2 separate regions of the Homo sapiens genome follow, and region 2 is linked to region 1. Evidence: fine-mapped expression QTL. Tissue or cell type: skeletal muscle. Region 1 holds a variant in brackets; the other region holds the start of a gene. All regions are shown on one strand. Distances are between the middles of the regions. Region 1 overlaps ZNF839 (zinc finger protein 839). Region 2 holds the start of ZNF839 (zinc finger protein 839).

What was found. PIP is the estimated chance that this variant, and not a neighbour inherited with it, causes the effect.
Region 2: it holds the start of ZNF839, and the variant in region 1 is the best candidate, but not a certain one, in a credible set for the expression of ZNF839 in skeletal muscle (GTEx, PIP 0.84).

Annotation. Positions count from the first base shown.
Region 1 is chr14:102,340,431-102,343,339 of GRCh38, forward strand. It overlaps ZNF839 (zinc finger protein 839), which reads left to right. Exons shown (of 8, transcript NM_018335.6): 8 at 893-1,937. The coding sequence ends at 1,749. Among named protein-coding and RNA genes, the nearest start is that of CINP, 21 kb to the right of the region's middle. The variant C/T (reference allele first, on the strand shown) is at 1,563.
Region 2 is chr14:102,318,341-102,321,249 of GRCh38, forward strand. It overlaps ZNF839 (zinc finger protein 839), which reads left to right and starts at 1,406. Exons shown (of 8, transcript NM_018335.6): 1 at 1,406-1,713. The coding sequence starts at 1,426. RefSeq lists silencers at 1,466-1,565, 1,626-1,815 and an enhancer at 1,916-2,025.

The sequences.
Region 1 (2,909 bases):
CTGGCTAATTTTTGTATTTTTAGTAGAGATAGGGTTTCCCCATGTTGGCCAGGCTGGTCTTGAACTCCTGACCTCAAATGATCTGCCCGCCTCAGCCTCCCATAGTGCTAGGATTACAGGCGTGAGCAGCCACCGTGCCCAGCCTGATGGTGATTCTTAATTGGGGCATGTGTTGGAACCACCTGGGGAGGTTATTGTGAAATACAGGGGCCTGGACCTCTGGGAATTCCAGGTCTGCAGGTAGGGTTGTTGGGAGGGTGTGGATGTGAGTATTTGGAAAGGCCTCTTTGGGTGATTCTCCAGCTCACTCTGATGAAGAATCACCAATCATTCATTCAGTATTGGCATAAAATCACTGTTGCTGGGTGTGGTGGCTCATGCCTGTAATCCCAGCACTTTGGGAGGCTGAGTCGGGTGGCTCACAAGGTGAGGAGTTTGAGACCAGCCTGACCTACATGGTGAAACCTTGTCTCTACTAAAAATACAAAAATTAGCTGGGCATGGTGGCGCATGCCTGTAATCCCAGCTATCAGGAGGCTAAGGCAGGAGAATTGCTTGAACCCAGGAGGTGGAGGCTGCAGTGAGCTGAAATCGTGCCACTGCACTCCAGCCTGGGTGACAGAGCGAGACTCCATCTCAAAAAAAAAAAAAAAAAAAAAGCACACTGTCGATTGGCTCTTAGAGCATATTTTTAATACAAAATCTGTCTTTGTGAATAGAGAATAGGGACGTATTTTTTAAAATTGCTACCAATCCCAAGGAGCAAGGAGCATCGATGCTTTGACTTTTCTGCAGGGCAGGTGACTTGGCCTAGCTGGTTTTGGGTGGTGAGTGCAGTGAGTGGGCCATGACACAGTACACGCCATGTTCACCTGTTTCCCAAAATGTTTAGGTTTTTCCCCTCCAGTAAATGTGACTGTCTCTCCCCGTTCTGAAGAAAGCCATACAACGACGGTTTCTGGTGGCAATGGGAGCGTGTTCCAGGCGGGCCCGCAGCTTCAGGCACTGGCTAACTTAGAAGCCAGGAGGGGGTCTATAGGTGCTGCTCTCTCATCCCGGGATGTCAGTGGGCTGCCTGTTTATGCTCAGTCAGGAGAGCCTAGGAGGCTGACCCAGGCACAGGTGGCAGCGTTTCCTGGAGAGAATGCTTTGGAACACTCTTCAGACCAGGACACCTGGGACAGCCTGAGGAGCCCGGGTTTCTGCAGCCCTTTGTCATCTGGTGGTGGAGCAGAGTCCCTGCCGCCTGGGGGGCCTGGACATGCAGAGGCAGGACACCTCGGCAAGGTTTGTGACTTCCACCTGAACCACCAGCAGCCCAGCCCCACCAGCGTCCTGCCTACAGAGGTGGCAGCCCCTCCGCTTGAGAAAATTTTGTCTGTGGATAGCGTGGCAGTGGACTGTGCCTACAGGACTGTGCCCAAGCCAGGGCCTCAGCCTGGCCCACATGGATCACTATTGACTGAAGGGTGTCTCAGAAGCCTTTCGGGGGACTTGAACCGGTTCCCCTGTGGGATGGAGGTGCACTCTGGCCAGAGAGAACTGGAGAGCGTGGTTGCTGT[C/T]GGCGAAGCCATGGCTTTTGAAATTTCCAATGGGAGCCATGAGTTACTGTCTCAGGGACAGAAGCAGATTTTTATTCAGACTTCCGATGGGCTTATCTTGTCCCCTCCAGGTACAATAGTGTCTCAGGAGGAGGACATTGTCACAGTGACTGATGCAGAGGGGCGTGCCTGCGGATGGGCCCGCTAGAAGGAGTTCCTCTAGAAGCTGTGGAGTCGGTCGTCACCGTGGAGCCAGAGCCCTCACAGTGAAGTGGAGTCAGATCCTAGATTCGTCTGATTTTATCCAGAGAAGGTCTATGGCAAGCAATGTATATTTTTCTAATGTGAATATTGCACAGATGAACCTTTTATTTATAAAGAATAATGTCTTTCTGCCCTGCTGTCTACATTTTTCTATGGAGCTTGTCATAATAATAGCAGATATTACCTGATCAGGAATCCCTGTGGCGCGTCTGACGCTCATGAGTTTTTCATGATGGTGATGAGTAGCACTGCACTGTCACCTGATGATTGGCCCTGCTCCGTTTCCCTTCTCTCCTGGGAGATATGCTGCTTTTCCACCAGACTTGCTCCATACTAGAAGCTTCTTTTGGGTTCAATTAAAAAGAAAATAAGCTAGTCATTCTGGGCAGCATTTTATTGATAGAAGGGGGAAAAAGTCATTTCTACTTGCATGATTTTTTAAATTAAATTAAATTAAATTAATTTAATTATTTTTGAGACCAAGTCTTACTCTGTAGCCCAAGCTGGAGTGCAGTGGCGCGATCTTGGCTCACTGCAACCTCTGCCGCCTGGGCTCAAGCGATTCTCGTGCCTCAGCCTCCTGAGTAGCTGTGACTACAGGAGCATGCCACCATGCCCAGCTAATTTTTTTTTTTTGTATTTTAGTAGATACGGGGTTTCACCATGTTGCCCAGGGTGGTCTCAAACTCTTGAGCTCAGGCAATCCGCCCACCTCAGCTTCCCAAAGTGCTGGGATTACAGTACAGGCATGAGCCACTGCACCTGGCCAATGATTTTTTTTTTTTTTTTTGAGATGGAGTTTTGGTCTTGTTGCCCAAGCTGGAGTGCAATGGCTCGATCTTGGCTCACCGCAACCTCCACCACAGGGTTCAAGCAATTCTCCTGCCTCAGCCTCCCAAGTAGCTGGGATTACAGGCATGTGCCATCACACCTGGATCATTTTGTATTTTTAGTAGAGACGGGGTATCTCCATGGTGGTCAGGCTGATCTTGAACTCCTGACCTCAGGTGATCTACGCGCCTCAGCATCCCAAAGTGCTGGGATTATAGGTGTGAGCCACTGCACTGGGCCTGATTGTTTTTTTTTGAGATGGAGTCTTGCTGT
Region 2 (2,909 bases), 22 kb before region 1:
CCTGAAATCTGGTCGGGTGTGGTGGCTCACACCTGTAATCTCAGCACTTGGGAAGGCCGAGGCGGGCGGATCACCTAAGGTCAGGGTTTCAAGACCAGCCTTACCAACATGATGAAACCCCGTCTCTACTAAAAATACAAAAATTAGCCAGGCATGGTGGCGGACGCCTGTAATCCCAGCTACTCAAGAGGCTGAGGCAGGAGAACCGCATGAACCCAGGCGATGGAGGTTGCGGTGAGCTGAGATTGTGCCACTGCACTCCAGCCTGGGTGACAGAGTGAGATCTTGTCTCAAAAAAAAAAAAAAATTGTGGTAAGATACCCATAATATAAAATTCACCATTAAAAAATAACACGGAAGGGATCATCGTGAATGCAATGTGAGTATTGATGAGGATGGTGGTGATCTTCCAGAACCTTCTCTGACGCCACCCAGGCCGCCAGCCTTACTTTACCGGCTTCGGCGCTCATCATACTGTGCTGCAAATGCCAGTTTCCTCCTTCCCCCTTGGGAAGTTTCCTCCTTGGGGGTCGGCACCTAGACTGTATACCCCCCAGGGCGGAAACAGCGGTTCACCCACCAGGTGCTTAAGAAGGGTTTGTGGACCAGTGGACCTCCTGCTCTCCCTGGGGAAAGGAGCTGGGACATGTGTACACACCTGCAGCTACAAGATTCGGAGGGCGCACAGAGCCTCAACCGTAAGAAGGAGAGGCGATCAGGCTGAGGAAGATGGGGCAGTGGAGCTGGATGGATAGAGAGAGGGTGGGTTCATTCATTCGTTCACTCATTCGTTTATTCATATTCATCCATCCATCATTCATGCCCTGAGCGTGCGTTGTGTTCTGGGCAGGGCCTGTGCTGGGCACCGATTGTGTAATATATCATCTCTCCCTTCAAGGTGCACCCAATCTGGGTGGGTGGGTAGAGAGAAGCTACGGTGACAAGGCAAAAATTTGGGAAACACTCTCGTTAACAATTCAAACTGTGGTCCCCTCCCAGATGTATAAATCCAAATGTTTAGGGGTGGGCACAGTACTCTGCATCTCCAGACAGCATCCTCCGCTGATTCGGATGCATGATGACGTCAGAACACTTGGATATTGTGGTAACTTTTGGGCCAGGGGCTCTGAAACCCCGAAGACCTCCCCCTGGGAGATCCGGGACAGCTCCCAGAGAAGGTGAGTCTTAAACACATCCGTGACAGGCAATAAGGAAAATAAGGGGGGTCCGCTCTGCTGATCAGCCCTAAGAGCCGCGGCGGTTGTCGGCTGGGGCGGGGCACTCCACGACTTTCCCGGCCAGACACGGTCGCCTTCCTAGGTGTCTTGGCCTGCGAGGCACTCGTAGCCCGCCCCTCTCCTAGGTGACGTACATTGGAGACGCCGTCGCTCAGCGACCCGGGTTCGAGTCCCCGCCTCGGCCGCCATGGCGGATGCGGAGCCGGAGGCTGGGGGCGGCAGCGAGGATGGCGGCGGCGGCGGCGGCCCGGCTCCTCCGGGCCAGAGCGGCAGCGTCGCACGTGTGGCCCCGCTGGGCCCCGAGCAGCTGCGGCAGGTCCTGGAGCAGGTGACGAAGGCGCAGCCGCCGCCGCCGCCGCCCCCCTTCGTGCTGCGGGACGCGGCGCGGCGGCTGCGGGACGCGGCCCAACAGGCCGCCCTGCAGCGGGGCCGGGGCACCGAGCCCCCGCGCCTGCCGCGCCTGCTCCCGCCCCAGGTGAGGCGTCGGGAGGGACGTGGGGAAACTGAGGCCCGAAGGGGGCCGACGCCCCGCGGCGGGGTAGCTGCTTGTCCGGGGAGGCCAGTATCCGCCCGGGTTAAGACTCAGGGCGTCCCCAGGCTGAGCTTCTTAGGGACGGCGTTCGGCCCCCACCTGTCACCACCCTGGCATTTTCACCCCAGGAGCCTCACTCTAGGAGCGGTTGCTCACGCTGGGCCCTGTGCCTGGAACGCCCTCGTGCCTTCTCTGCCTTCACAGCCCTGCTGGGGGCTTTTGCGTGCTCCCTAGCTCTTCTTACAGGCCTTTCACCGCTGGTTCAGCCTTTGTGGAGCACTTAGAGACCGTGTTCCCAGCACTCCCCACTATGTGCAGGAGGTGAAGCCTTGAACACACTTGCTGAAGAACGAACATAAGGCAGGTTCTGGGATTGACGGGGGCTGCTTTAGAGTGGGTGGTCCCGTAGGCCAGACACTGGAGCTGAAACATAAATGAATTAAAAGGAACCAACTTAGCTTTTCAGTTGTAAGGTGCCAAGGCCCAGGCTTGGAACAAAGTCAAGCACAATACACTAGTTCGCTGCAGGACTTAACATCCTGGGTGATAGTGACTGATTTGTAACCGCAGTACCCAGCACAGTGCCTGATACACAATGTTTGGAATATGTGAAAGCACTCTGTATACTACAAAACATCCTTTCCCAGTGGGTTTATTTCCTGGGCCACACACCTTTTGGTTGCTAGGGGGGTGATAACTAGAAGACGGTCGCCCAACTCCGGAGGGTGAAGCATAGCGCCTGAAGCCAGAGGGCCTACACGGCATCTGTAAAATTCCACCCCATTTCAGCGCTGGGGTTGTAAACAAAATTAGTCTCACCCCAAAATTGCCAAAAGAAGACAGCTTTTTCCACTAGAAGAAACGGGTTAGGGAATAGAATCAGGAACCTTCACTCGTTGAGTTTTTTTGACTGATGTTAGCTGCTTAGGGTTGTATCCAGTTAATCATCAAGACTGGAGAGTTGTCTTGCTAAGGTTTAGGAAGACCAGTGTGATTCTGTCCAGATGCCACACTATCACTATCTAGAGGTGTGACCTTGGGTAAGTCAACCTTTTTGGACTTTGGTCTGGGTCAGAAGGCTGCAAGGTGCCATCTGGGGGCAGCTATCTGCAAAGCCTCTGCTCTGCGCCCGGCGCTGT